Regions from separate parts of the Homo sapiens genome. Here regions 2 and 3 are each linked to region 1. The links come from fine-mapping of genetic effects on gene expression. A gene starts in region 1. Each other region holds a variant in brackets. All regions are shown on one strand. Distances are from middle to middle. Region 1 holds the start of SNPH (syntaphilin). Region 2 overlaps SNPH (syntaphilin). Region 3 overlaps SNPH (syntaphilin).

Evidence for each region. PIP is the estimated chance that this variant, and not a neighbour inherited with it, causes the effect.
Region 2: its variant is the best candidate, but not a certain one, in a credible set for the expression of SNPH in whole blood (GTEx, PIP 0.77).
Region 3: its variant is the best candidate, but not a certain one, in a credible set for the expression of SNPH in skeletal muscle (GTEx, PIP 0.59).

Annotation. Positions count from the first base shown.
Region 1 is chr20:1,260,372-1,270,832 of GRCh38, forward strand. It overlaps SNPH (syntaphilin), which reads left to right and starts at 5,923. Exons shown (of 7, transcript NM_001318234.2): 1 at 5,923-6,026; 2 at 6,283-6,389. RefSeq lists an enhancer at 5,609-5,758 and silencers at 6,159-6,238, 6,339-6,418.
Region 2 is chr20:1,296,874-1,307,334 of GRCh38, forward strand. It overlaps SNPH (syntaphilin), which reads left to right. Exons shown (of 7, transcript NM_001318234.2): 5 at 272-379; 6 at 3,689-3,838; 7 at 8,005-10,461. The coding sequence ends at 9,181. Among named protein-coding and RNA genes, the nearest start is that of SDCBP2-AS1, 23 kb to the right of the region's middle. The variant C/T (reference allele first, on the strand shown) is at 4,389.
Region 3 is chr20:1,284,414-1,294,874 of GRCh38, forward strand. The region is part of intron 2 of SNPH (syntaphilin); the gene reads left to right. Among named protein-coding and RNA genes, the nearest start is that of SNPH, 23 kb to the left of the region's middle. The variant G/A (reference allele first, on the strand shown) is at 7,348.

The DNA of each region.
Region 1 (10,461 bases):
CATAAAGCTCTGTTTCCTTCTAGGTAACTGGTTTGAGATCTTCCCTCTTTTCTAATATAAACACATAAAGCTCTGTTTCCTTCTTGGCACTGCTTTAGCTGCATCACACAGATACTTATACGTTGTATCTTCACTTTTGTTCTGTTAAAAATATTTTCTAATTTCCCTTGAGACTTGCAGGTCTTTTACCTGCAAATTATTTGGAGGTATAGGATGTTCAGTTTCGAAGGGATATTTCCAGTAATTGATTTTGAGTTTAATTCCATTATGGTAAGAGAACATACTTTAAATGATTTCAATTATTTCAGATTCATTAAGATTTATTTTATGACCCTATACTAAGTTGAAAATTTGTGTATACATTTTGACTCCCCAAAAACTTAACTACTAATAGCCTACTGTTGACCAGAAGTCTTACCTATAACATAAACAGTCAATTAGCACATGTGTTGTATATGTATTATATACTATATTCTTACAATAAAGCAAGCTAGAGAAAAGAAAATGTTATTAAGAAAATCATAAGGAAGATAAATATATTTTCTATTCATTAAGTGGAAGTGGATCAACATAAAGGTCTTCATCTTCATGGTCTTCACACTGAGTAGGCTGAGGAGGAGAAGGAGGAAGAGGAGTTAGTGTTGCTGTCTCGGAGATGGCAGAGTCAGAAGAAAATCCACATGGAAATGGACACACACAGTTCAAAGCTGTGTTGTTCAAGGATCAATTCTGTTCTGCATTTGTTAGGTGGAGTGTTCTATAAATGTCAGTTGGACCTAGTTAGTTCATAGTGTTGTTTAGTTCTTCTACATCCTTGTTTATTTTGTCTACTAGTTCTATCAATTACTGAGAAAAAGTGTTTGTGTCTCCAGCTATAATTGTGGATCTGTTTATTTCTCTTTTCCATTCTGTCAGTTTTTGCTTTATATATTTTGAAGTTCTTTTATTAGGTTATATACATTTATAATTATTACATCTTCTTGGTGAAATGACCCTTTTATTATTTTATAATAATTCTCTTTATTCCTGGTAATATTTTTTGCTCTGTAGTCTACTTTTTCTAATATTAATATAGTTATTCCAGCTTTCCTTTGATAAGTATTTGTATGGTATATCTTTTTTTATCTTTTACTTTTAGCCTACCTATATCATTCATTATAGTTAAAGTGAATTTCTTATAGACTGCATCAAATAAAGTCATTTTTTTATCCATTCGGATAACCTCTGTTTTAATTGAAGTGTTTAGATCACTTATATTTAATGTAATTATTGACATTTTTGGATTTCAGATTTTATTTATTTAGGATTTTTGGATTTTATTTTATTTTTTTTACTGTTTGTTCCCTTTATTTTTTATTCCTCTGTTTTCCCCTTTCTTGTCTTCTTTTGGAATATTTGGAATTCCATTTTTATTTCTTCTTCTTCTTTTTTTTTTTTTTTGACAGAGTCTCACTCTGTTGCCCAGGCTGGAGTACAGAGGTGCAGTCTTAGCTCACTGCAACCTCTCCCTCCTGGATTCAAGCAATTCCCATGCCTCAGCCTCCTGAGTAGCTGAGATTACAGGTATACAACCACCCCACTCAGCTAATTTTTGTATTTTTAGTACAGACCAAGTTTTATATTTTTAATAGAGACCTGTTGGACAGGCTCATCTTGAACTCCTGGCCTCAAGTGATCCACCCACCTCTACCTCCCAAAGTGCCAGGATTACAGGCATGAGCCAGTGCACCCGGCCTATGGTGTTTTTTTTTTTTTTTTTTTACTATATTTTTTGTCATAGATTTTAAAAATAGCTATTCTAGGGGTTACAAAATACATACTTAACTTTTCATGCTCTACTTAGAATTGATATTTTACCACTTCAAGAGGAGTGTAAAAATCTTACACCATATAGGTCCCTTTATATTGTAAAGGAATATACATACTCCTCCTTTATATTGTACTAGTCTTATCTACACACATTGAACCCCCATCAACAATTGTTGCTTTCCACTGTCAAACATGTTTTAAAAGATCAAGAGAAGAATAGCCTATTACATTTACTCAAATATTTACCATTTTTGTTCTCCTTCCTTCTTGATGTTCCAAATTTCTTTCTAATGTAATGTCCCTTTTGTCTGAAGAACTTAATTCAGTAGTTCTTTTAGAGCAAGTGTGCTGGCAATGGATTATCTTCATTTTCCTTAATTGGAGAATGTGTTTATTTCACTTTCATTTCTGAAGGATATTTTTGCTGGGTACAAAATCCTGGTTGACAACTCTTTTCTTTAAGCAATTAAAAAAAATTGTTCTGTTTTCTTCTGCCCTCCATGGTTTCTGATAAGAAATCAACAGTTATTTAAATTATTATTCCTGTATTTTTTTTTTTTTTTTGACACAGGATCTTGCTCTGTCACCCAGGCTACAGTGCAGTGGTACAGTCAGTCATAGCTCACTGCAACCTCGACCTCCCGGGCTCCAGCAATCCTCCCACCTCAGTCTCCCGAGTAGCTGGGACTACAGGCAAACGCCACTACACACAGCTGATTTTTGTATTTTTTATAGAGGTGGGGTCTCGCCGTGTTGCCCAAGCTGGTCTCAAACTCCTGGGCTCAAGCAATCTGCCTCTTGGCCTCCCAAAGTGCAGGGATTACAAGTGTGAGCCACTGCATCCAGCCTATTCCTGTATTATTAATGCATCATTTTTCTCTGACTGCTTTAAAGATCTTGTTTTGTTTTTAATTTTCAGCAGTAACTGAAAACTATTATTATTATCATTATCATCATTTGATTTATTCTCTCTGGGGTTCACCAGAATGCTGGAGTTTGGAGCTTTATTTACTCTGTTCCACTTTGCTGCCTACTTTCCACAGTTGAACTTGCATCTGGGACCAGGAGGTAGGAGGACAGTGACAAAAAAACAACAACAGGGGCTCACCCTCCCTCAGGACTACAGCTACTTTTATTGAAGAAGTTTCTCCTCCCTCAGAGTTTTAGGCACCTGTGGGTTCCTGCTGTCACAGACACCACTGCAGGATGGCCTAGGGCCTGGGTCATGAGACAATGGAGAAAAGATTTGAAAGGAAAAGAACAATGATATCTCCCACATACTCTGCGCATCAGAAGTCCCTTTTCCTGATCTTCAAGTCAAAACTAGGGAGATTCTTTGGGAGCTTTCTCTTTATTGAGCCCCAATTCCAGATTTTGATCTGCCTTGAGACCAGGACAGGAGTTATAGGAAGAAATAAAGATGATAAATTCACCACTAGTTCAGTGGTAGGGTATATCAAATTCTGGCTTCTTCCCCAGTGTGCCTGCTAGTATTTTGTCTTCAGAATCCTCAAATAGCTGCTACATGCATTTTGTTCAGGTTTTATTGCTGCATTCTGTGGGAGAGTATGCTTAGCCAGAATTGGAATACAATTGTTTTTGAAACTAAAAAAATTTTTAATGTATTTTCAACTAGTCCAAAACAAAACAAAATTACTAATTTATTAGGAATAATTTTGTTTTATACTTATAATCCTCATTTGTTGCAATTTACATTATAACTAAACACCAGTTCTCTTCTCAATCATCTGCTTCCTGATGATAAAGAGAATACTTTACTAGCTAACACCATTCCAGATGGGAGTAATGTGAGTGAAGTCACTGTCTTGCTTTGGGGAAGTTCCTTGTGGAGATTTCTGGGAAATGTAGTCTTCTAAGTACCAAGCAAAAAAAAAAAAAAACCCAAAAAAACCCCCACACAAAACCCCACACACATACACACATGAGGATGGGACAGCCAGGCATGGTGGCTCAAGCCTGTAATCCCAGCACTTTGGGAGGCTGAGGATTGCTTAAGCCCAGGAGTTGGAGACCAGCCTGGGCGACATAGTAAAGCCCCATCTCTATTAATAAACAAAACAGCATGGGAACAGACAAAAAAATATTTTAATGACAATCTCAGAAATGTTCTCCTTCTAAACATGTAATAATTACATGGCTTCCTTTGGTTTCACTTTTAAGTGTAAAAATGTCACTTATATAATTTCAGTGAGCATTAGAGCAGATAAAACATTTTATCAATTAACTTGCTAATATAGCATTAGGTGTTTTGGACAGAAGACCTCAACATTTCACATGGCTTTTTCAACTAGTTTCCTATTCCTGCTAAATTGCTCTGCCATGTTTTTCTAGAAAACATAATATAATAATGGCTATCTGATAGGATATGGTTTAACGGAATACAGGAGAAAATAGAATCAATGTCCTCTCCAAAATTTATTAGCATTTGTTGCAAAAAAAGTAATGGATTTATTGCAGCTCAGAGATACAGGAAAAGATTTGACTGTGAAAAGCAACAGTAAACTTAAAATAATTATTTTTTCATGTACATTATCAATATTAACTGTTTCTCACCAGGCCAGTACTGCAGAGTCATGATGTAAATCAGTGAAGTCACTTTACAAATTCTTCTCTTGGAAAAGTCAGCTTGGGGCAGAGAGTAGAGGGTACCAAGTTCAGCACCGGCGAGAGTAAACAGACTTAAGGACTTAAGAGCCTTAAGAGACTTAAGACAAAAGGACTTCCAGGATGGCATCTGGCCTAGTGTTCCCATAGAAGACTGGGGCCTGGCACAATGTGTGCTTGCTTTCTCATTCACTTAGTCAATATTTATTGAGCTCCTACTATGTGTTAGGCACTGCTCTGGGCACTGGAAATACAGCAAGGGAAAAAAACAAAGTTCCTTCCCTCATGAAGTGTACATTCTAGTGGGAGTGATAAATGACACATAGTAAATATACACTATGTCAGCTGGTAATTAAGTGTAGCAAAACTAGGGGCAAAGGAGGTGGAGAGGAGGGAGTTAGTATTTTATGTAGAATGGTTAAGGAAGCCCTCTCTGAGACAGTAACATTTGAGCAGAGACCTGGAGGAAAGGAAGGATTGAACCATGTGGCTCTCTGGTGTGTTCTAGGCAAAGGGGACAGCAAATGCAAAGGCCCAGCAGTGAGGCCTCAGCAAGAAGGACAGCTTGATGGGAGAAAAGTGAGTGATGGGGAGAGCCACGCAAGATGAAGTCAGAGAGCTGGAGTAAGATGAGGGCATGTGGCGGAGAGCGATACAGAAAACCACTGGATGGTTTAGAGCAGAGTAATGACAGATCAGACAGGCCTGGTTCAGAAAGAAGGAGCCCATTCCCACTCCACCTACTTCCCACACATGAAGCAGATAAGAAACCAAGCCCAGAAAGTGAGTTAACTTATCTAAAGTTGTATGGCTAGAAATGGAAGGGCTAGGCAGAAAATCCAGTTTTTTGGACTTTTTGGTCTTCTTGTTTTCCCTGTGACAGATGGAAGACAGAGGGAAAAGAGCCACAATTAACATTTTAAGTTGTGATTGTTTATCTCTCCGAGATCTTTCCAATGATTCACCTTTTTACTACTTAAGAGGAAAACATTTCCATTTTCAGACACTTAAGATTCCTGCTATCATTGTTAGTAGCCCAAGTGCTTGTCATTCACATTAAATACCCCTGGTACTCAGACTTGGTTTGGGCAATGAAAAATGTTCCTAAAGGCTTTTAGATAAAAATTACTATTTCACTAGAGCCAACTATGTGCCAGGGAGTGAGACTGGTATCATCACCCCATGTTAGAGAAGAAAAAGCTGAGGCCCAGAGAGGTGAAGGGACTTGCACAGGGTCACACAGCCGACCAAGACGCTTTCCACCACGCCCAATCGATCGCCCAGCTCAAAATACCGGCTGGTGTGTAGGTGGGAGAGGCCGCCGCTCCCCGTGTGCTCGTTGTCTCTGTTCCCAGGCCCTCTAGAGCAAGATACTAACTATCTCTTTAAGAAGGAAAGTAAAGACGGGCCGCTTACGCAGCTGCCGGCGAGCCGCCGACTGGCTGGTCCCCTCCATCCACCTCACCCTCCCCGCCCCTCCCTCCCGGCAGCCCCAGCCCCGGCGAGCACCCAGCTAGCCGCCTCCTGCAGGGGCTCGGGAGAGCAATTCGGCGGCCCCTGCAGGGCAGCTGAAGCCATGGAAGCCTCCGCAGGTGATGACAAGGACCCCGGGGATCTCCGGGCCCACCGCCCAGCTGCACCCGCCGCAGTCCAGAGTGCCGAGTGCCAGGGGGTGGGGTGGGGGCCGCGGGCCGCGAGGAGGAGGGGACGGAGCACCCGGCAGGCAGCCTGCCCTCCAAGCCTTCTGGCTGCAGCGGCCCAGCTGTCAGCGGCCGGGGGCTCAGCTGCCTGGGTGTTCCCCGCCCGCGCTCACCCGCCCCGGTCTATCTCTTTTTCCTAACCCCGCAGGTCGCTGATCAGGGCCAGGCGGCTGCAGCAGCGACTGCAGAGGCGCTGCGCCAAGCCGGGCCGGAGTGGTGCGAGCCGGCGGGGCTGCGGAGGGCCAGTGGACTCAGGTGAGGAGGCCGCGGCGGAGCGGGGAGCTGGCCCTGCGCTGCACCGCGGCAGGTGGGGGCCGCTTGCAACCGCTCGCTGCGGTAGAATCCCTTGGAGGGCACCAGCCTAAGAGGGGTTAATCGTGACTCATTCTTACCCTCCCTTCATTCCCCTACATCCCTTTAAGCGCTTCCCTCCCTCCCCCTCCCTGAAATGTAAGAATTAGAGGGTGCTGATTGCAGCAGAGAAGATGCCCAAAGTGGGTGATTAGGAGGCTTTTAGGGAACCCACCCCCCAATTTTATTTGTCTTCCCCTTCTGGCATTTGGCAAACATTTAAGCTTCTCTTTTCCTTCTTGGAGGAGGAGCAGGGGTACCTGGGGGTGGGAGAAGGATGAGACCCCACCCCCACCCCAAGGTCAAGTGCCAATGACTGCTTCCATCCCATCTTTCCCTCTGAGAAGCATCAGGGCCCTGCAGTAGATCTGGGGAAAAAATGCCCATAAGTCCTAGAGTGGACGATCTGAGCCTCCGTCTCCCCGGAGCTTCCCTGGGATGTGAAGCCTTCCACTCCCCAGCCGGGATCTGGGCTGTTTGCAACACCTACTAGCCTGGGGAGCCCCATATTCCCTTCCCCAACCCTGCAGACTGAAAGAGAGGCCGGTCACATGCTGCCCGTTTCCTCTGCCTTCTCTGCCCATCTGGTGGTGTCGGGATGGGCTGGAGGAGCTTCTTAGAAAAAGGTGATCTCTGCAGGCAGAGTCGTGTAAGGAAAGTGCCAGAGATTGGGGTTCTAGGCCCTTAACTTGCTAGTTGGCCACAAGTAGCCATTTTAAAATTCTCTAGGCGTGGGTGTCTGTCTGCTCATCTGTTAGATGCAGGAATTGGATTAAATGATGTGTATAATTTTAGTATATCACTCAAGCAGCTTTTACATGTCAGGGGGACCCCTCTGCTAAGGCAATTTAAATTTAGTTTCATGAAATAATTGGGGTTTCCTCAGTTGATCTCTTTCAACTCTGACTTCTTAAGTGAAACATTGACCTTGTGGGCCTCAAGGAGCTGGAGGTGCCAGACAGTCCTATGTTGACATCCCTGAGCTGCCAAGTGACTTCCCTTCCCCCAGCCTCAGTTTCTCCATCTGTAAATCTAGGGGTACAGCCCGCAGAGGGCTGATGTGAAAATTAAATGAGATGTATGTGGAAGCACCTAAAATAGTGCCTGTGCCTGGCACATAGTAGGTTCTCAGGAACTCAGGACTTGGGAGATAGGCTGGGGGAAGAGAGGAAGAGGTGACTGCTTTTAGTCCTGTTCTCCTCCCCATCCCCTGCCTGTCTCTTCCACACCCCTGCAGATGGTGTCCCTGCCAGGGGTAATGAATGCTGAAGTGTATTGGGTCACCAGGCTGAGGGCCTAGGCAGGCAGCAACATTTCCACTGCAAAGGTTGTGACATCATTCTAGCAAATGATGGTCCCAAGGAGGACTGTAGCCCAGCATTGGGTTTGGAAAATCCTGGCATCCAAGGGCGGAGTCTCTGAGGGAACAGAAGCAGCAGATTCTTGTGTGCTGGCAGCAGGGCAGGGATCAGGTCTTCCGGATCTCACATGAATCCCACTGTGGCTCTCTTGCCCTCCCTGGAGTGTCTCCCTAGAGTCACCCTGAGGCCAGGCAGTCAAGTTTTTGGTGCTTGTATTTTCGATTCTTTATCTTCCTTCCTGCTGTCATTTTCAGCCTAGCACTCAAGCCTTTCTCGCTCCTCTTTATTCCAGATACCTCCTGCCTTTTGACAGCATGATAAAGGAGGTTCTCCATAGGGTTGGGTGGGGAATTTTGCTGCTGCACCATTTGGGCCAAAAGAAGTTGTCATGTCCCCCCACCCCCACCCTAAATTCCTATTTGGCAGAGGCCCTATCATTTTCCTTTCTCTATCTCCAGCCTCTGGCCCATGAGTAGGCCCAAAGTAGGTGCTCCGTAAGTGTTGAATGAAACAAACTTGAGGAAATTATGTCCCTAAGCCAACTAGGTTAGGGAGAAACTGTAGGAATGTGTTGATTATGTAGGTGAAAGCCCTTTTTAGTGTAGGACATCGTCCAGGTTGTTGGTTGTCATTATTATTGCTATTACAGCTACTGTTATTATTGCTATTGTTGGTGATTAACAGATGCTTCGCCTACTCCTCTAGGGCTCCTGACTAGACCAAAAGGGGCCAGATGTGCCTGGGAGGGTGGTGATGTTGGCAAAAAGGGATCCAGATGGTGCCAGCTGGTGTGAGATGACTGTGAAGGGAGGAGGATTGGGAAGGGAATGATTCTAGCCATTTTCTGTGTTTGAGGGAGGAGAGCAGGTAATTAGAATCAAGTGGGACAACATGGATATGCAGTAGAAAGTCAGGAGACCCAGGTCCCATGTCCCATTGAACCACTGCCTTATTATGTGACCTTGGGCCAGTCAGGCCTCCCCTCAAGGCCTCTGTGTGCCCATCTATATAATGATGGGACTGGACTAAGTGATTTCTAAGACCCCTTCTGCTTCTGACATTCTGTCGAGTGGATTTTGTTAAATAAAAATCAGACAACTATGATTACCCTCAACGTCATTTATGAAGTCCCAGACCATTAACTGTCTCAGGTAATCCTTAAAGAAAATTATGACCATTTCAAAGATGGGGAGACTGAGGCTTGGAGAGACTAAGTGACTTGCTGAGGGTTGCGCGGCTAGAACTGCTATCCGACACCAGGTCTGTCTGCATCGTCCCCTTCCAAAGGTTTCGCTGCCTCTTCATGCATACCTTGCTGATGCTGTGAGCTGTGTGTGCACTTGCAGGTGGGAACAGGGGTTTGGAGAAGAAGAAGCTGTGAACAATTTACGGTGAGAGATCAGGCATTTCTCCCAGGTGATTGGTGCAGGGTACTTCCTGGTTGAAAACTGTGTGAACCAGGAATGGAGAGTTTTCCTTTCACCGTGAGCCCTGCTTTGCTGATGTTTGGTGGATGCCCCTTTACCGAGGATAATGGTTAGGCCTGAATGACAGTCAGGACAGACACACTTTTTTAGTCTTCTTATGTGTTGTGCTCTGTTTTACACAGGTTCAATAATTTACTGCTCAGATCATCCCATTATGTAGGCACTATATATAAATTTACCCATTTTTATAAGTGAGAAAGCCAGGGCAGAGAGGCGAAGGGTCTTACCCAGAGTCGTACAACCAGTGTATCATAGAACCTAGAAAATGTTTAGCTGGAAGTGCACTGGACTGGGTGTCCAAAGGGTTGCTTTTAGTCTGAGCCCTCTCAATAACTGAATAACCTTGGGTCAGCCAGTTTCCCTCCAAGAGTTCCCATCCCTCAAATGATCTGCATGCATCTACTGGCTCCGAAAGGCCTACATGCACCCTTGTTCCAGTATTGGAGGTGGAGGGGATTCCTTAACTTGCTAAACATTGACCAGCATTTGTCCTTATTTATTAGCTAGGCCCTGGGCTAAGTGCATAGCATGCAGGAAAGAGTAAATTGTGAGTCCTAGTTTCAAGAAGCTCATATCTAACAGAGGGAGACAGACACCTAAACGTGTAGATATGAGAAAACATCTGGAAGCTATAAGACATACTGATATGTGTGTGATGGGGTGGGGGGACAGAGAGAGGGGAATGATCTTTCCTACTGAGTGGGTCAGGAAGGCTTTAGAGAGATGATGCCATTGTCATCTCTATTTTTGGCATTGAGCTTGTGAATAATAATTTAATAATAATAGTAAAGGGTTCTACTCGATTTAGAATGTTTCCAAACAGCCCTAAAGACTTGTTGGCTCCTGTCCTCATCAATCTAGAAGGTGGACATGGAGTCTAGGGGACTATCCAAGCTCACGCTGTAACACAATTTTGATGGAACTATCTGTTTGTCCCAGGTAGACCAGAACCTTTCCTGTCCTTAAAGCCTTCTAGAAGCAGGATTTTGAAATTCCTCTGACAAAGACTGTCTTGTGCCTATAATCATCTGATAGGCTTGGGGAATTCTTCTTCATGTCTATTCTAGGCATCCCACCTGTCTGGAGGAACGCCTAACACCTGAGAGGTGAAGTCATTTGCCTAAGATT
Region 2 (10,461 bases), 37 kb after region 1:
ATATGAGGCCCCACCCTTGCCCTGCAGCCCTGCCGGCCCCCATTCTTGTCCCTGGGGAGCCAGGAGGACCAGCCTTCTTCTGGTTTTCCATCTTGATTTGCACTGTCTGTTCTGTCACCCCTGTCTGTGCGTCTCTCTCTCCCTGCTTCTCTCCCCTGTGGTGACCCCAAAGCGGGGGCACTTTGGGCCGCAGCGGCCTGGCAGTGTTCGCCCAGTGTCCGCAGCTGCCCGCCAGCCAGAACGAGCACCTGCCTCTTCTTCCTGCCTCCAGGCGCACCTCTCCACCTGTGAGCGTGCGGGATGCCTACGGCACCTCTTCGCTCAGCAGCAGCAGCAATTCTGGCTCCTACAAGGGCAGTGACAGCAGTCCCACGCCAAGGTAATTGGCCCCTCCTCTCTGGGCCTGGCCCTGCTGGCTGGGAACAGGTTGTCCTGGGGTGGGAGAGGTAAGGGAGCAGGGTCGTGTTCTAACCACCCCTGACGCCAGCATAGCCGCTGGCCGTGTGACCTTGAGCAGATCATTTCTCCTTTCTGAGCCTCAGTTCCTGTCTGTAAGATGGATATGATAATATACAGCTGGACATAAAAAAATACAGTGGCCTAAACAAACTAGGGGTGATACTTGCAGAACAAGGAGCCAGGGGTCAGCAGCTCCCTGAAGTGTCAGGGACCCTGTGTCTTCTCCCGCTGCTCCACCATCCTTGGTGTACAGCTTTTGTCTTTGTCATCACAGGTGGCTTCTGTACCTCCAGGCATCAGGCCTGCCCTCCAGGAAGGAACAGGTGGAAAGGACCAAAGCCCTTCTCAGAGATTGTTTTTCTGAGAGGGACAGCTTGCCCCCAAATCCTGCCAGTTCTTGCTGGCCAGAACTGGGTCATGTGAATAACTCTAGCTGCAGGGCCAGTTAGTGTCTTCCCCACAACAGTACCACCCCAGACAAAATGGGGGTTCCGCTAGGAAGAAAGCAAGATGAGTATTGGGAAGCAGCCTGCAGTGTCTACCATCATGCACTTCTCAGGGGAACACTTTGAGAGTGGCAGAGGTGGAACTGGCTTGGAAGGCGAAATGTTACGAATGCAGCAGATGCCAAGTTGTAGTCTTGAGTGAGGTGAACTCGGACTCACAAAGCAGGATCATGTTGGAGAAGCAGGTGTAGGGGAGCTGTAGGTCCTTGAAGACCAGGAAGGAAGAGCTGTCATGGTAGGCCTTGTCCTGCTTCCCCAGCATTGAAATACAAGTGGGAGGTTGGGGCGTGTAGGGAACGAGCATAGGCTCTGGATTTGGTCTCTTCCTGTCTTGAGCCTCCATTTCCTTTCTTTAAAGTGGAGCTAATAACTCGGAAGCTTCGGTGACTTGATATCTACACACCGCCTGTGCATCCTAGTTGGCCAATAACTGATACCTCCTGTTGTTAGAGCTTTGATCTGACTTAAGGCCAGGAGATGCCCAGCCTGTGGCTCCCATGGCTGGAGCACCTCCTGGGAGGACTCAGTGGAGAGGATGTCATTTGTGTGAAGCGATGTCCAGAGCCACTGAAACAGCAGCTGTTAGATTTCTATCGTGACACACATGATGGGTAACACCCATGTGCAGGACTCATGCCCCAGCATCCTGGCTGTAACACCACCCCAGAGACTGGGGGACATAGGAGTAAAGCATTAATTTACATTTTGAAAACTATATAATTGGCAACTTTAATCTTTTCTATTAGTAACAGATTTTGTAACACACCTCGTAACTGCAGCCCATGGAGGTGATCCCAACCCCAGGGCTGAGAATTGCTCCCAGCAAAGGGTCTTCTTCCCCACAACAAGGGTTGCTGCCCCTGGGTGAGCAGTGGGGCCACAGTTAGGTCCCCTCTGCAAATAGCCAGGCTTTCCAAGGCAGGAACAGCTGAGAAACATGCGTCACAGCGTATTTTTTTTCTAATTTGTGTGTGTGTGTGTGTGTGTGTGTGTGTGTGTGTGTGTGTATACATATTTTTTTTTTTACAAAGAGCTAGTGACTAAAAATGTACACGTGTTAAATTTTATATCGGGGAAAATATTCATGAAAGCAAAATGAAAAGAATGTAAAATAGTTACTTCCTCTCTAATCCTCAATCCTTACTAGTTTAGCTAACCTTGGGTCCCCCACTCCTACCACCCCTTGCCAAGGGGTGACTCCTCCGCCCCTTGCCAAGCAGAGAGGAGACCTGCGTGACTTGGCTTGAGTTGACCTAGGGGCCATGACGTGAGTACATAGAAGAAAACCACTTCTCATTCCACTTCTATCACCACTTTCTCTTTGACAGTTTACGACTTACAAGTACTTTTTCCTCGGTAAACACCATACAGCTTCCATGGAACTTTTAAAATTGCCTCCAGCTCGGCTGCTTCAGCAAATGGGCCTCACCAGGGCCTGCCTTTTCCAGGCTCATAAAGGGACATTGCCCCTCCCTAGACCTGCCAGTCACTCTCCCCTCAAGGAGCAGAGTTGGATGGCAACAAGGCCTGAGTCTCTAGTCGCGAGATACATGCCCAGGTTTTAAGCCAAGATCCAAGGTTTCTGTTTGAGCAAAACAACCAGCAGCCAGGACACTGAGAATAGAGCTGGCTGGGCCATAGTCTGTTGTGGAATTGGGGCATTCTCCTTCCCCGTGAAAGCCTGGCCCTCCCTCCTCCACTGGCACCTGACTGCCCTCTGGGTGGAAATTCCTTCTCCTTTGCCCTGGTAGGGCACCATGTCAGTGCCGCCCTGTGCTGGGAGCAGTGCACTTCCAGCCTGCTGCCACCCCAGAGTACTGCAGTGGACAGGTCCCTGCCCAGAGCCGGCAGGTGTTCACGTGTGTGCTCCCATGTGCCCCCGGAGGTGAAAGTGTGAACATGTGCCTGGGCTGGTGCCCTAGTATGTGTGAGTACCTGCGAGGCACAAGTGTGTCTCCATGTATGTGGGCATGCAGGTGTGAATGGACTGGGAATTGACATCCCAGGAAGTGTGCGTGCATGTAGTGCTCACCCACGTGTACGCAGTGGGGGTGAGGAGTGAGAGTGCCAGGGCGTATATGGAGACAGCTGTGCCTGCGCGTGTCTGCCCTCCCTGTCCCCAGGCTGTGAGGGGTCTCAGCTCTAGAGAGGAGAGCTTCTGCCTCCACCTGGGAGATGTATCCTGCTGTGTGGGGGTGAGTCCTTGTCTGCCATGCAGACCCAGCATCTGCCACTTACACCTCAGTTTCCAGCCTTCAAACTCATTCTCCAGGTTGGAAGACGAGGTACCTGGGTTCTGGGGCACACTACCGGGATTGTCTGAGGGGCTCGGGGCAAGAGCTAACCTCTCTGAGGCCAGCGGCCCCTCTAAAAGATGAAGACAGTCCCTACTTCAGGGCTGCTATAAGGATTGATGGCGTTGGTCAAGTGCTTGGCCTGGTTCCAGGTTTACACATATGCTCTGGGATATATCTCCCCACCCAGCCCTAACTAGAGGAGCCCTGAAGCCCGCTTCCTGACATGATGGTCTTCACTTAGAGGAACTCTACTAAAACCCACCTTCCAGAAGGCTGGGGGTTCTCCTGCCTTGTGTGGGAGGCCTGGCTTGGAGCATCTGGTGGCCAGGGATGGTGAGGCTGGTGTCCCCTTGCTCCCCAGAGGTAAAGCACCTGTGCCTTGCCTGACCTCTTCCTCCCTCCCTGATGATGGGCGTCCCCTTGCAGGCGCTCCATGAAATACACGCTGTGCAGTGACAACCATGGCATCAAGCCCCCGACCCCGGAGCAGTACCTGACCCCCCTGCAGCAGAAGGAGGTGTGCATCCGGCACCTGAAAGCCCGGCTGAAGGACACACAGGACCGGCTCCAGGACCGGTGAGCGGGTGGCCACGAGCAGCCCTGGGGGTACCCCACCAGCTCCACACTCAGGGAAACCAGGGCTCTGGGGTGCCTCTTGGAGGGAGGAGTGGCTGGGGGTCTCCCAGCATCCGTCTGCTCTCTCCTTCCCAGCAAAGCCTCATTTGAGCCCACTTGCAGACCCTCATCCCCAGCAGCTACTCACCTTGACTGCTCCACGAGGCTGTTGGGGGCCAGGCGGGAGCAGTTTCCCATGAGGGCCTGTCCTGTGGGGCCTCCTGCCTGTGCTGTCCTTTCCCAGCTTCAGCCTGGCAGCTCCTTTGGCTGCTTCTTTTCCTCTGGCTCCCATCTTCCAGGAGTTGGAGCACAGGGCTTCTTTCTGACTTACTTGCCTCTTTTGGGGGAGAAACAACTCTTTATCCTTCCTCGCTTCCTCCTGAGTGAGTCACCAGAGGGCTTGTGGCCAACCTCGACTTCAGGCCCCAGAAGCCATCTACTTCCTGCTGTGGAGGATGATGATGAGAAGCCTTTTGCTGAGCTCCTCCCCAGCCCAGGTGTCTCCCAGGAG[C/T]CCCCGCAGGCCGTCTGAGCTCATTCTCAAGTGCTTAATCCCAACCCTCCCAGCTTCTACCCTCCAAGCCCAGTGGCTTCATCTTTGTGATCTACACTTCAGGGCGTCGATCTCCCATTGTCTTAACTATCCTTCTCGGGACTGTGTCTATGCAAACATGCAGCCTATTGTGAGCTGGCCAAGGTGCTGTGTGGGGCTGGAGCTCAGAGCAGGCACGATGATCGCTCCTTTTTTCTTTTCTTTCTTTTTTTTTTTTAATACAGCAGCTTTATTGCAATGTAACTTACATACCATATAATTCACCTATCAAAAGTGTACAATTAGATGATTGTTAGTTTAGTCACAGAATTTTGCAACCATTACCACTATCTAATTTCATAAATATTTCTATCACCTCAAAATAAACCCCATTCCCATTAGCAATCACCGCCAATTTCTAATTTCATCAATATTTCTATCACCTCAAAATAAACCCCATTCCCATTAGCAATCACCGCCAATTTCTAATTTCATCAATATTTCTATCACCTCAAAATAAACCCCATTCCCATTAGCAATCACCGCCAATTTCTAATTTCATCAATATTTCTATCACCTCAAAATAAACCCCATTCCCATTAGCAATCACCGCCAATTTCTAATTTCATCAATATTTCTATCACCTCAAAATAAACCCCATTCCCATTAGCAATCACCGCCAATTTCTAATTTCATCAATATTTCTATCACCTCAAAATAAACCCCATTCCCATTAGCAATCACCGCCAATTTCTAATTTCATCAATATTTCTATCACCTCAAAATAAACCCCATTCCCATTAGCAATCACCGCCAATTTCTAATTTCATCAATATTTCTATCACCTCAAAATAAACCCCATTCCCATTAGCAATCACCGCCAGTTTCTAATTTCATCAATATTTCTATCACCTCAAAATAAACCCCATTCCCATTAGCAATCACCGCCAGTTTCTAATTTCATCAATATTTCTATCACCTCAAAATAAACCCCATTCCCATTAGCAATCACCGCCAATTTCTAATTTCATCAATATTTCTATCACCTCAAAATAAACCCCATTCCCATTAGCAATCACCGCCAGTTTCTAATTTCATCAATATTTCTATCACCTCAAAATAAACCCCATTCCCATTAGCAATCACCGCCAATTTCTAATTTCATCAATATTTCTATCACCTCAAAATAAACCCCATTCCCATTAGCAATCACCGCCAATTTCTAATTTCATCAATATTTCTATCACCTCAAAATAAACCCCATTCCCATTAGCAATCACCGCCAATTTCTAATTTCATCAATATTTCTATCACCTCAAAATAAACCCCATTCCCATTAGCAATCACCGCCAGTTTCTCTCCAACCACCATAGTCCCTGGCAACCACTGATTTTTCTGTCTCTATGGATTTGTCTATTCTGGACATTTCATATAAATGGGATCACGCTGTATGCATGACCACATCGTTCTTGACCACAGCTCTGCCAAGCAGCCAATCCGGTTTGGATTTGTTGTGGTTTTAAACTACAGGCGGTTACGGGTAGCATTCAGCGAGCTTCATTGTCGGCAGAGGGAGGATTTCTATTTTTATTTTCCCTCATCTTCCCAATGATGCCCAGGATCTGCGTGGCCTTTTGCACTAATGCCTCAGGGAGCAGATGGCCCATCTCCCAGCTTCATTTCTAGGGCCAGCCCCATGGCTTAGAGCAGACCATCTGCCCTGTGTGGTTTGGGCAGGATGCCCTGGTGTAGGTGTGCTAACACCTTGACTCCCTGGTCACTGTCTGCCTGTTACTCCCACAGGAACCCATTGCAGGTCTTTACATGAAATACTGTCACTCTCCCCACACTCTCTCCATATGGAGTTTCATGCCTGTGCTTCCTGCAGTGGCCCACCTTCTGTTCCTCAAAGACACCATGGCTTTTGCACCTCTGTGCTTTCGTATCTGTGTCCCCACTACTTGAGATGCCCTGCCTTCTATCTTGCTCCCTGGGCAGACTTACCCTTCAAGACGCACTTCAGATGTGATGCCCACTGAGGCGTGGACAGGGCTCGAAGCCATGGCTCCCTGGGGTTTGGCTGGGCCCCAAGGAGAGAGAGGCAGAGACTGGCTGAGCAGATCATGCCCAGTTCCTTCTTTCAAACTCACTCTTTCTCCCAGGGTGAGGTGTGAGTGAGGAGCAGGGTGAGAGGCCAAAAGGGTTACCTAGAGTGGGCCCCCCACCTGGAGGCAGGAAGGGTGAAGGCCAAGTATCTCCTGCCCCTCAGTACCTGTTGCCTTGTCTGTTATTGGCACTCTAAGCAGCTCCAGCTGTGTCCTGATGGGTGGATGGGCCCCTTCTAGGTGACACCATTGCTGACCTTTATGGCCACTGCATCCCCTCAGCCCCCAGTCCCTCCAGCGTATTGTGGAATGAGATTCCTGGGCCCATTTCCTGAAGGAAAATTCTGATCTGGCTTTGAAAAGTATATGGTGCTTGATCTGGGACGGTCATTCTGCTGGGCTGATGAACCCCAGAGTGACAGGCACGGCATTTGTAGATTTTACGGATGGGAATGTAGGGTTTAGGCTGAGGGGGCTCATGTGGGCTGCCACTAGGAAGTGAGCGAAAATGCCCAGGACAGGGTTTGACGTCTCCTGGATGATTTTCCTTCTTCCTCACTGGTGTTAATCAGTCGCCATTCTGTCTCACTCTGGTTTTACCTCTAGACCTGATGGCATATTTTTCTAACTTACCTCCCTCCCCTTGCACCCCTGGATTCATCTGTGACTCGGGAATTTGAAAAGCCTGAGCATTTCTGGACAAGAGTCTGCCGACTATCTTGTTCACCTGGTGCTTGCCCCCGTCGCTCAGGAGTAACTCTATGCCTTTCTCGTTGATCTTTTCAGCTTTTCCTCTTTAAGATACAAGATACAAGGAGATACAAAGATACAAAGAAGCTTCTAGCATGGATAGATGAGAGCCACCCTGTTCTTATCACTCTCCCGTTCCACCCACCACTTCTCATCGCTCTGCATGAGGGATGATGTAAAATCATCAGCCTCCCCCAACATTGAAAGCTGTCATTTCTCTCCCCTGGGGTCTCTGGCCAAATATTCCTCCACTGAAACTTTCTGCAACCTGCTTTAGTAGGTAGTAGGAGGCTACATCACTTTCTATAGAGCAGAGATTTCCTGCCTAGTTTTTGTTGTTTCACATTAAGATTTTATTAGGTTTTTATAGCAGTAGCTATAAAACTTATGAGCATCTTTGTTGTCTAGTCTCTTCTCTAGATGATGGATTTGAATGTTGAGAGTTGTCGGCATTCTGGGGGTGGTGGGGTGGGGGAGGGAATGCGAGTGGTGTCTCCTCCCAACCTTTCTTCTCTCTCCAGGCAGAGGCTTCTCCTGTCTTCACCCCTCAGCCCCTCTCCCCAGCCACTCTCACTCCCCACTATAATAAGAAGGCATTGAGTTTGTCCTTCTGTTTTGGGTTCTGAGCCACAGCAGCACAGGGCCCTTCATCCTTGGCAACAGTGTCCTCTCCCTGCCTCTCCTTGGCGGTGACAGACCAGGCAGGCAGGCAGTGAGCGTGTGTGTGTCTCCTCGGCTCGCAGGGACACAGAGATTGATGACCTGAAGACGCAGCTGTCACGCATGCAGGAGGACTGGATTGAGGAGGAGTGCCACCGCGTGGAGGCCCAGCTGGCCCTGAAGGAGGCCCGAAAGGAGATCAAGCAGCTCAAGCAGGTCATCGACACTGTCAAGAACAACCTGATTGACAAGGACAAGGGGCTGCAGAAGTACTTCGTGGACATCAACATCCAGAACAAGAAGCTGGAGACGCTGCTGCACAGCATGGAGGTGGCCCAGAATGGCATGGCCAAGGAGGATGGCACTGGGGAGTCAGCCGGTGGGTCCCCTGCCCGCTCCCTCACCCGCAGCTCCACCTACACCAAGCTGAGTGACCCGGCTGTCTGTGGTGACCGCCAGCCGGGTGATCCCTCCAGCGGCTCTGCTGAGGATGGGGCAGACAGTGGCTTTGCAGCAGCCGATGACACACTGAGCCGGACGGACGCGCTGGAAGCCAGCAGCCTGCTGTCGTCGGGGGTGGACTGTGGCACCGAGGAGACCTCGCTGCACAGCTCCTTCGGCCTGGGCCCCCGCTTCCCTGCCAGCAACACCTATGAGAAGCTGCTGTGTGGCATGGAGGCTGGTGTGCAGGCCAGCTGCATGCAGGAGCGTGCCATCCAGACAGACTTCGTGCAGTACCAGCCTGACCTTGACACCATCCTGGAGAAAGTGACCCAGGCCCAGGTCTGTGGGACAGACCCTGAGTCAGGGGACAGGTGCCCAGAGCTGGATGCCCACCCTTCAGGGCCCAGAGACCCCAACTCAGCAGTGGTGGTGACAGTGGGTGATGAGCTAGAGGCCCCAGAGCCCATCACCCGTGGACCCACCCCACAGCGGCCTGGTGCCAACCCCAACCCTGGCCAGTCGGTGAGCGTGGTGTGCCCCATGGAAGAGGAGGAGGAGGCTGCCGTGGCTGAGAAGGAGCCCAAGAGCTACTGGAGCCGCCACTACATCGTGGATCTGCTGGCTGTGGTGGTGCCGGCCGTGCCCACGGTGGCCTGGCTTTGCCGCTCCCAGCGGCGCCAGGGCCAGCCCATCTACAACATCAGCTCCCTGCTGCGGGGCTGCTGCACTGTGGCCTTGCACTCCATCCGCAGGATCAGCTGCCGCTCGCTGAGCCAGCCGAGTCCCAGCCCAGCGGGCGGCGGCTCCCAGCTCTGAGGGGGCCCATTCTGGCAGCGGCGCCTGCGGCCTGACCACTGATTGTAGGGATGCCGTTCCCCCCTCCCTTCTCCCATGGGCATCATCTTATTTATTTAGTTTTGGGTGTGGAACTGTTTCTTTTTTTCAAGATGTTAAAACAGTCCCGTGGAAGGAGCAGGGGTTGGAGAAAGGCATCCCAAAGCTTCGATGGAGAGCAGGGAAGGGGGACCCAAGGCAGGAGGTACACCAGCTGGACAAATTGCAGGGAGGGGAGGGAGCGAGGGCCAACCCGGCCCCTCTGTCCCCTTGGCTCTTCAGACAGGGCCAGCCCTGCTCAGGAAGTCTCTGGCTGTCTTCATGTGGGGAAGCCGGGCTTGAGTTGCCCATAGGCCCCTGCCCTGCACCATCCTGTCCAGTGCCCTGCGCACTCCATGCCGTCTCTTCCAAGCCACCTTGCCCGCAGCCCAGGCTCCTGGGCCAGTGCTCTCTCCTCAAATGGAGGCAGCCATGGCCTGAAGTGCAGATCACTGACCCAGGGCTCAGAGCAGAGGCCAGAACCACTGGGCCGGCCGGCATTCCAGCCTCCCCAGACTGCTGCCCACCTTGGGACTCAGGAGCTCAGTCAAGGCCACAGGCTGGAGGAGAGACGGGGCTGGGCGCAAGGTGGCGGAGGGCAGTGTGGGTTCTGTGTCTGTCTGTTCATCCCAGGCTTTCCCGTCATCCCTTTCCTCTTGGCACTTCTGGGTGTGTCAGTCATTATTCCTGTGAGGTAGCTAAGCCCGGCAAGCTCAGTGCTGGGGTAGGAGGGCCTGCCTGAGTCCCAGCTCCCAGCTGGAGAATCCACCAGCACAAGAAGAGGAGGCAGGGGCAGAAACCCAAGGGGGCTCCCCCAGCCTTCCAAGGTGAGGCCATCTCATCTGCAGGCTGGGAGGCAGGGCTGGACTCAGGAACCCACAGCTTACTGAAAAAGCCAGAGGCCATGACTGCCCCCAGAAACTTGCCCCGAGTTTCTCTGGGGCCCTCGGGCCCAACTTCTGCTTTGCACTATGTTCACTTTGGGGTTGGTTCTCAGCCATCCAAGGGTCTCCAGTGAGGTGGCTGCTTGCTGTCTGAGATGAGGGTTCCTAAACCTTAAACCTCTCTGCCTCTGGAGGAGGGTGGGGTATTCTGGCAGGATGAATCGCAGGATGGCGCGTACTGAAGCCACGATGTTCATCCAGGCCAAAGCAGGGTGTCCTGGGATAGGTTTCCTAGGCAGGGGCGTGGCAGAGCAGGTAGGCGCCCTGCAGCCTCCCTGC
Region 3 (10,461 bases), 24 kb after region 1:
AAAGCATAAAATGGGCATCCATCCTTACCTCTCTGGAGCTTATATTCTAAAGACATAAAATAAATACATACATAAATATGTTAGCTGTTGCTAAGGACGGTGGAGAAAAACGAAGCATGGGAAGAAAGAGGAGTGCTGTAGGAGGAGGGGTTGTATTTTAAACACAGTGGTCAGAGAAGATTCACTGAGAGGGTGACCTTGGAGCAAAGACCTGAAGCAGGAGAGAGAATACACGGGGCAGAGATCTGGGAGAAGAGCATTCCAGGCAGAAGGAACAGCATGTGCAGAGGCCCTGATGAGGGGATGTGCAAGAAGGCAGGGTGGCTAGAGCAGAGTGAATGAGGGGGAGAGGTGATGAGGTCAAAGAGATAAGCGGGGGTCAGGGGAGGGATGCACAGAACTTTACATCAGCCGAAGAAAAGGCTTTAGCCTCTATTGAAAGGAAGGACCGTTGGAGGGGTTTTGAGTAGAGGAATGACCTGATCCAATTTGTGTTCTAAAAGGATCCCTTTGGCTGCTGGGCAGAGTTTGTAGGAGATAATGAGACCTGCATCATCCAGGAGAGAGATGGTGGCTTGGACCAGGGATGGAGCAGTGAAGATGCCGAAAGGTGTCAGATTCTGTGACTGTGTCGCCTCAGTTTCCTTATCTGTAAAATGCATACACTGTGCAGGGAATAAAAGCTGACAGGCTTTTCTGATAGACGTGAGAGTGTTGGCCTACCCGACTGGAATGATGGGATTGCCATTAACTGAAATGAGGGAAGCTGCAGAAAAACAGATTTTTAAGGCAAAATCAGAAATTCATATTTTGGATGTGTTAATTTTGAGATACTCTGTTAGACCAAAGTGGCGGTGTCCTGAAATCCTGTTGTTTGGTAGACAATGACCGGTTTAGGGTTTTTCTTTCCTTTTCTTTTTTTGCAAGTAGACTTAAGAAAGCATAAAATGAATCTGTAGTCAGGAACCTCTCAGATACAAACGAGTATAGTATTTCAGATTAAGATTTTGGACAGGGAGAAAGATGTAATATACATGAATAACATTGAGAATAAGAATATATTCAGGCGAATAAATAATTACTGCTATTTACGGAGTGCTGTCCCTATGCCAGGTCCTTGCTAGGCATTTCACACGTGTTATTGCTCATTGTGATTATACTCATGCACAACTGTAATTAGCCCCATTTGAGAGATAAGGAGAATGAGGCTTAGAGGAGTAAAGTGGCATTCCCACTGTCATAAAGATGGTGGGTGGTGGAGTTTGGAATTCAGAGTTCCAAATCCAGTCATATTGGATCTAAAATTCAGTTACATTTGATGTTCAAGCCGTGGTTTCTTTCTGTCGGGTTAGTCTGCCTGTCAGCAAAAGGGGAAAACTCGTTCTGAGATAGATAAAGGGTGGCCGGGTGCAGTGGCTCATGCCTGTAATCCCAGCACTTTGGGAGGCCAAGGCAGGTGGATCACAAGGTCAGGAGTTTGAGACCATCCTGGCCAATATGGTGAAACCCCGTCTCTACTAAAAATACAAAAATTAGCCAGGGGTGGTGGCAGGCACCTGTAGTCCCAGCTACTGGCTGAGGCAGGAGAATTGCTTGAACCCTGGAGGCGGAGGTTGCAGTGAGCCGAGATTGCGCCACTGCACTCTAGCCTGAGCGACAGAGCGAGACTCCATCTTAAAAAAAAAAAAAAAAAAAAAAAAGATAAAGGGCCTTTAAAATAGGACATAGTAGTTTGTAGAATCTCCCTTTTAAAACATTTTAGAATGCTTCACTTTGGCTAAATTAAGAGGTAGGGCAGCTTCTCCAGAGAAGGAAAACTTATTAGGAGAGGCATTTATTAATCACCCACCCTCTTCCAGCAAGTGTGAGCCACACTGGGCATTGTTGAGGCCCTGGATCTTATTGAAGGTGAAAGAATTCAGCATGGCATGGGAAGTACCACGGGGAATCAGGTGGACAGGGATCAGCTGCTGAGGACAGCAGGGCAGCTGCAGCTGGAGAGGGAGAAGGGAGCTGGGAGGAGAGATGAAGGAGCTGCTGTGAGATAGGCTCCTGGGCTAAAACAGGCACAGTTGGGTGCGCTGGGCTCCATGTCTCCCTGCTGAGCCCCTGGGAGCTGCAGGAAGATAGATGAACCTTGGCTTCCAACAGGAGCGGCATGCCTGGAACTGTTGGTGGGATTAGAATGAGCTGGCCCTGCTTCTATGGCTCCATTGTGGCCTTTGGCAAGTCTTCACTTTTCTATCTAGAAAATGTGGCAGTTGGGACTCGATTGTCATGAAATGCCAGGAGAGCAAGAGAGAGTGTGTGTGCACAAGTGACAGGGAGAGAATGCAAGTGCAAGAGACAGCGTGAGTGGTTTTATGTGGTTTCTTGTTTTGTATTACCAGGAACGAGGAAGCTCTCTGATCTCAGGCTGGGTGGGGGCTTTGTCTGTGGAAAGGGGCTGTCGTCGCAGGCAGAGCAGATGACATCTCCACATCCCTTTAGTCCTTTGGTCTGTGTGTTCCATGTGTTCTTCAGTCTGACATGAGCAAAGCACAGCACACACAGGGCAACTTTGGGGAGCTCTGAGGGCACCATCTTTCCTTGGGACCCACTTTGCCGACTCCCAGTGGACCATCATCTTGCCCTGCAGCCAACCCCATGCAAAAGTGTTCCTTTTAACATTCCTTTTAGGGAGATCTTTATTTCTCCCAAAGAACCAATTTTCTTCCTGCCCTCCCATAACCATGAGAACAATAAGACTGAGCATACTTTCCCTTTTGGCATCAGTGGCCAGGAAGCTTGGAATTGAATCTCAATGTCATTATTGCCACCATGTATTTGTGGTCAGCATGGATATTCCCTTCTTCCCTGGGCCTCTGTTTCAATGCATATTTTATTGCATGTCATTTATGAGCTGCCTTAAAATGGTCAGGACTTCTCCTGTCATACCCGTAGGCCTTCCTTCCAAGATTTCTTTACTTGAAAAGGTTCCCTTTGTTCTTTTTTTTTTCTTAATTTTTGCCCTGGTGAGGGCAAGGGTTGTGGTACAGAAGCTTCACTGATAGATTCAGGAGTCTAGCCCCAAGCCCAGGCTCTGTCCCTGACTTTCTGGGTAACCTCAGGCAACTAACATGCTTTTTCTGGGTTTCAGTTTCTTTCTCTATAGAATGATAGGTTGTGATGAGGTCTACTCCAGATCCTTTCCATTCTGATTCTGAGAGTGTGTTAGTCCCTGTTGGTACCTGGGGTAAATGCCAGGGGATTAGGCATTTACCTAATCTTACATCCAGGATCCAAAGAATCAAGGCAGAAATCTGGAAAAAATGAGAATTTTTAGGGATGGAAGTCTCACCATTTTCCTCATCCTGTGATGCTTTAGAGTTGGAAGCTTGGGAGAAGGGGGAAGGGAGAGAAGCCGGACTGAGGCTTGACAGCTCTATCAGTCAGGAAGCCCAGGGAAGCATATGCTGTGGCCAAGGTTGCTGAAGGGCCTCCATCTGCCAGGAGCCACTAGCCAGGCAGCCACCAAGCTGGGGCTGGCACCACTGCCCCTCCGTTCCTCACATTTCTCCATGGGTGTCTGCAGAGGGGCAGCCGTGGAGCAGCTGGGATGGTGGAAGCATGGGAACCAGTGTTCCCCCTACTACTCCCTACCCAGACGGGAGGCCTGCCAGACATTGCCCTGGAAAGCCAGCCCAGGTCACTTGGCCTAGCAGAGTTTGCCAGTCATTTCAGAGTCACTCATGCCTGGGCCTGCTGATGTCCGCTGAGGTGATAAAGCAAGAATTATTTCTGAAGAAGGGAAAAAGAGAGATCTCCTTCGACAGGTAATAGTGATAGCAAGAAATGTTCAGTCCTCTAATTTCCCAAGAACTACCCCCATCCCTCCATTCATTACCTTGGTTGGATCCCAAAGAGACAGCAGGGCCAGGAAGGTGGCGCCTTCCTGAGTGAATGCATGAGACAGCTGAGACGAACAGAGGTCAAAGACCCAAGGTCACCAAGATGGACGATGTGATATGGCTCAGAGGAGCTGAGGGTCTCTCAGTGGTGGGCTTGCACAGCAGCTGGGCTGCTGGGTGGGACGCAGCAGTTGTTGGAAGAGGAAAGAGCAGTGCTCCTCATGGAAAGGGCTTCTCCTTTGCCTGCGAGGCTGATTCTTAGAGGAACAGGGAAAGTCACTAGTTAGGGAGAAGGCACATGAGGAATTTCTTTTTCTTTTTTTCTTTTTTTTTTTGAGATGGAGTCTCCACTCTGTCGCCCAGGCTGGAGTGCAATGTCGTGATCTCGGCTGACTACAACCTCTGCCTCCCAGGCTCAAGATATTCTCCTGTCTCAGCATCCCGAGTAACTGAGATTACAGGCACCCACCACCTCGTCCAGCTAATTTTTCTATTTTTAATAGAGACAGGTTTTTGCCATGTTGGCCAGGCTGGTCTTGAAATCCTGACCTCAGGTGATCCGCCCACCTCGGCCTCCCAAAGTGCTGGGATTACAGGTGTGAGCCACCGTGTCTGGCCAAGAATTTCTTTTTAAACGACTCTCTGTAGTATGCTTACCTCTTATGTCTGTGATGCCCTGCTTTTATGGAAGTATGACCAGCCCAAAATGCAGGTATATACCTGCTCATCTCCATTGTGGTATCTTAGAGTCTCATGGAAAAGTAGGTTTTTTCTTTTATGCAGCAGAATGATAAGTGTCCCAGGTCTACTGTATTATGAGACCTTCATGATGCAGTAGAAATGCAGGTGCCCATGACCTGGAAATCCAGGGTCCAGCCCTTGGTGACTCTTGTAACCTCTGAGGCTTCAGGTTTCCCATAGATCAGATGGACTAGTCTCTACCTGGCCTCCCTCTATGGGGAATTTGTGTGAGGATTCAACGAAGTTGTGAATATGCAAGAGCTTTAGGGGCAGCCTCAGCTACCAGTCTCCTCCAGGCTGACCCAAAGTCTAGGGAAGCATCCTGGGCCCAGCTACCTGAAGTCAGGTAGAGGGGGGGCACTGGCTCTTGCTCCCCTTCTGCTGCAACTTGCTGAGCCATTCTGGAAGAGTCTCTACCCCTTTCTGGACCATGCCTGTCTTTTTATTAATGCAACGGTTCATTTAAATACACACACACACACACACACACACACACACACACACACACACACAATGGAGTCAGGGGCATGGTGGCTCACACCTGTAATCCCAGCAACTCAGGAGGTGACGCTGGTGGATGGCTTGAGGCCAGGAGATTGAGACCACCAAGAGCAACATAGTGAGACCCCACCTTTAAAAAAAGTAAAAAATAGATTAGCCAGGTGAGGTGGCTACTGGAAAGGCTGAGGCAGAAGGATCGCATGAGCTCAGGAGTTTGAGGCTGCAGTGAGCTATGATTTTGTCACTGCACTCCAAGCCTAGGTGACAGAGTAAGACCCTGGCTCTAAAAAAAAATTAAATATATATCACATGTATTTTTAAAAATTTGTTTTTTATTGAGATATAATTTACATTCCATAAAATTTATCCTTTTAATAGCCAGATGCAGTGGCTCACACCTGTAATCCCAGCACTTTGGGAGCAGGGAGGCCAAGGTGGGTGGATTGCTTGAGGCCAGGGGTTCAAGACCAACCTGGCCAATATGGAGAAACCCCATCTCTACTAAAATATACAAAAATTAGCCAGGTGTGGTTGTGCGTGCCTGTAATCCCAGCTACTCGATAGGGTGAGTCATGAGAATCACTTGAACCCGGGAGGCGGAGGTTGCAGTGAGCTGAGATCGTGCCACTGCACTCTAGCCTGGGCGACACAGTGAGACTCTGTCTCAAAAAAAAAAAAATTAAGTTTTTAAAATGTACAATTCAGGGATTTTAGGATACTCACAAAATTATATAACCATCACCACTAGCTACTTCTAAAACGTTTTTTATCTTCCCAAAAAAGAAACTCCATTCCCATTACCAGTCATTCCCTGTTCCTTCTTCCCTTCCAGTGTGTTTTCTGTCTGTGTGCATTTGCCTGTGCTGGATATTTCATATAAATGGAATCATGCAATATGCGGCCTTTCGTATCTGGCTTCTTTCATTTAGCATAATGTTGTCAAGGTTCATCTGTGTTGTAGCATGGATCAGTAATACTTCATTCCTTTTATAGCTAAATATTCCATTGCATAGACGCATCACATTTTGTTTATCCATTCTTCTATTGGTGGACATTTGGGTTATTTCCACCTCTTAGCTATTAAGAATAGTGCTACTGTGAAGTACACTTCTTATACAAGTTTTTGTTTGAGCATCTATTTTCCATTCTTTGGGGTATATACCTAGCAGTGGAATTGCTGGTTCTTATGGCAATTCTATGTTTAACTTTTCGAGGAACCACCAAACTGTTTTCCATAGCAGCAGCGTCATTTTACATCCCCACCAGCAATACATGAGAGTTCCAACTTCTCCACATCCTTGACAACGCTTGTTATTGTCCATCTTTTTTATGCTAGCCATCCTAGTGAATGTGAAACAATATCTCATTGTGGAAAATAAGTATTCCATAGATTTTTAACCTGAAAAATCCTTTTTAAAAAGTAGTCTTACTTCACACCTTCCATATGTAAAACACATACGAGAGGAGCCTCTTCAGGTGAAATGGGGGAGGAGGCCCAAGCCACCCCTCCCAGTAGGTGCAGAGGCAAGTCCTCTTGGGTGGTTTGAAGACCTAGGCTTGATGCCCTTCAGCTCTGGAATCTGAGTCTAATCACTGGAGACACATCCTGTGTAGCAGCTGCCTCAGCCCTCAACCTATGCTGGTTGCCTGGGGAAGCTTCTCACAGCATTTGGCCAAGTTGTGGGTCTGCCTTGCCGCTGTGTTGGGGTTGCCACAACAGTGAGAAGAAGTCGGATGGCGCCTCATGTGTGGTCCCAGCTTTGAGGGTGGCTTGTGTGGGAAACAGGAAGCAAGCTGGAGAAATGCCAGCAAGTCCTGGAAGGAAGATCCTAGGTTTTGTTGACAAAGGAGGAGCAGAGGCACATAGTGGCTGATGAGGCCATAGCCAGTGCAGGGTTTACTGAACTCCTCAGCTGTGAATAGCCCTGGTAGTGCTAATCTTCTGAGATCTAGAGTGTGGCTGCTGGAACACTCCCAGGCCTGTCTTCTATTCCCACCTCTCTGCATTAGCATTCTAGGAGCACCAGGCACTCTGCTGTCTGATGGGTGGAATGTTCTGCGTTCTAGTGTTACCTTGGCAAAGAGAGGATCCCTCCCAAGTTCTGCTCTGTTGATTGCAATGCTCTGCTTTCCACAGCTGTCAGTGGTTTGAGTCATCAGACACAGATTGTTCTGTTCCCTCGGATTTTAGGATAGCTTTCTTCTTGTATCAATG[G/A]CTAATTCTTTGAAAGAAGATAAATTATAGTACATACAGGGACTTTTGCTTAGCTGGAATATTAGATTAACCCAAGCACCTGGTTTTTCCCCCATGACTGTTGATTGGGGAAAATGCTATCATGTCTCTTTGAAGAATGGAGCTTCCTAATTTTACATATGTGGAAACTGAGACCCGAAAGTCCTAGTAATGAAGGAGAAAGAAGCATCAATTAGAAGCCCATAATTTCATTGACAGCTCTAGAATTAGAGAATGTTAGATCCAGAGCACCTTAGAGACCATCTAATCTGACTCTTTGGTCTATTCAATGTGCTTGTTTAAACCATTGTATTACCAACAGTTGTGTGTTGATTGTGTTTGTTTTTATGAAGTTTCCCAGGGGATGGTGTTCCCTGAGTTTTAGTCTAAGGCATAGCATCCTAAGTGGTCAAGACAGTAAGTGATAGGAGAAGTCACTGGTGGAAAGGCTGTGGGTGGGACCTAAAGAAAGAGTGCAATGTATGCCTGAGGACAGGCAGGGAAGATGCTGCAGATGGGACAAACAGCCCATGTAGAGATGCAGATTTGGGAGTGACTAGCCGAGGTCTCCTGGATGTATCAGAGAGCCAGTTGGAAAGGTTGTAGATGAGAGGGCCTTAAGCACCCACATCAAGAGCTTTGCTCTGATTTTTACCTAATCTGGGACTTCCAAGGAATTTTGAACAGGGTCCAGGCCCTTTTCTCCATTGTTCCTGCCATGACCCTGGCCCAGGCCCTCCTAATTTCTCCCCTGGTTGGTAACCTCCTAACTGGTATCTGGTATCCCTCCCTCTCCACACAGGCTCCTTATCAGGAACTTTCTAAAATGCAAATATGATTGTGCCCCTTTCCTATAAAGCACTTGCATGGCTTCCTGTTGCCCACAGGACAAGATCCTGGCTTAAGTGGCTCTGTGTGGCCTGCCCCCCTCCTTCTGCAGCCTCACTCCCACTGTACTTCTGCCCTCAACAGGCTCCCTAGTTTCTGAGCAGCCAGCTGTCACTCACTGCCTGTGTCCAGACTTCTCCTTCCCTCCCATTTTCTGCTGCCACCTGGTGAACTCTTATTCATCCCTCAAGACCCAGTGCAAATTTCTTGTGTAGAGAAGCGTTCCTGGATCCTCCTGAAGACACTATTATGGCTTGAATGTGTTTCTGTTTTGAAGCTCACTTCATGTTACTTCCAAAATACTGGCTGCCCCCATGTTTTAGTGTTTATTGTGTGATAGGCACTGACCTAAGCCCCATACTCACATTATTTTATGTTATTCTCACAGTAACCATATGAGGTGCATTCATTAGAGCCCCAGTTATTACAGATATGGGCAGTGAGGCTCAGAGAAGTGGGTGACTTGCCCAAGGCATGCAGCTGAAGGGTGCCAGAGCTGGCATTTGAGCCCAGATCAGTTCATATTGACTTCTGCAGTCATTAGTCTCATGCTCCCTGGACCCCCATTGTCGGGGGGGTTAGGAAGTGTTGAGCATTTGAGGGAGCAGTCAAAGGAGTGGATGCAGCAGGGTTGCTATGGTGTGGACAAGATGGGGAAGTGGAGGGAAGTTCAGTGAGGGCAGGGGCTGGGTTTACTCTGGGGTTAAAGTGATGAGAGACTATCAGCCCAGCTTCCCACAGTTAAGGGTTTTCTTTCTACCTTCCTTTCCAAGTGGCAGCCTCTGGCCACCTGGGGAGAGGCCTGCGGGACTCCAGGCTAAGCAGGTGGCATGGTGACAAACACCATGGCAACCTGCCTCCTTGCTAGGGCCTAGAAGGGAGGGAGGACCTGAGAGAGCACAGGATGCACACTGAGTTTTCTGAGTAGGATCCTGAGAGGTGGCTCCCTTTGGGCCTGGGTGGCTTCTGCCCTCCCATGAGGGACCCTGCCTGCAAGGTCCCATCCCAGCAGGGGAAATGCGTCTTCCACCTTTGTCCCTAATGAATACCTGGCTCTGGGTGCCCAGGAGACTGTTAGCTATACGCAGGTACAAGTGCCACCCCCTTCCCTCCCCCAGGCCAGGGAGGAAGGAAGAGGGAACTCAAGAGGAGGCAGGTGTGGGGTAGCCAAGCAAGATAGTGGCAGGGACAGCTGGGACAAGGCCCTCATTGTAGCAAGGCCACACGCAGCTCCAAGACAAACCAGGCATTTTGCCTGCCTCCCAGGACTGGGCCTAGCACTCTGCCTGGACTTTCCTGGCTCCTTAGAACACTCACTCACACTGGCTTGGAAGAGCCCATCCTCAGATCTGAGTCCTGCCTCTGCTGGAAAGTCCTCCTGAAGGCTCAGCCTCCTTTTTGCATCCTCCCAAAAGCCAGAAGGGCAGGGATGATGGTGGGAAAGTTGTTGGTGAAGCCAGGCCGACCTGGGCCAGAAGCCAGAGCATGTCACACCTGCAGCTGTGTGACCTTGGGCCCAAATGCAGTAACAAAGCCGGCCTTGAAGGATTGCTGCTTCAAGTAATGGGCCAAGGCAGACGAGAGCACTCAGCATGGCCACCTTACCACTGAAGGATTCAGGCAATGGCAGGTGATCCTTGGAGCCCTTGCCCATGTGCCCCTCTGCACCCTAAGCTGTTCCTGGTCAAGATCCTCCTGTGCCCAGGAGGCAGTGAGCCATTTATGGCCATCCTCACAAGCATGGAGGAGCACTGATGTCCTCTTACCCCCAAATCGCCCCTCCTCCATGGTTCCTGCTCTAGGGGCCAGCCCTACAGTTCCAGGAGGCCCTGCCTGGGTGACTGGGGCATAATGAGTGGGAAGCATTGCCAAGCTGGGGCAAGAAGCTCAGGTGACAGGTGTGGTGTCGGCAGGTCCTGCAGCCCAGCACCCGACACCTCCAGGCAGACAATGCTGGCTGTGTCCAGACCCTCCAGGGGAACAGGCTGTGTTCTATGTCCCCGCCAGGAAACAGGCCATCTGAGTAGTGCCTTTGTCCACTCAGGAGGCAGCCCCGCCGCTGGCTGGGATGACCAGGCTCCGGGGAGGCCCTGACATGGGAAGGGGGTGGTCCCCGGGCCAGAGACTCTGGGGTTTGAGATCCAGCCCCTCAGCATCTGATGTTGACCTGGTTTCGATATTGGCTCTGCCACACACCTGGGATGTGAC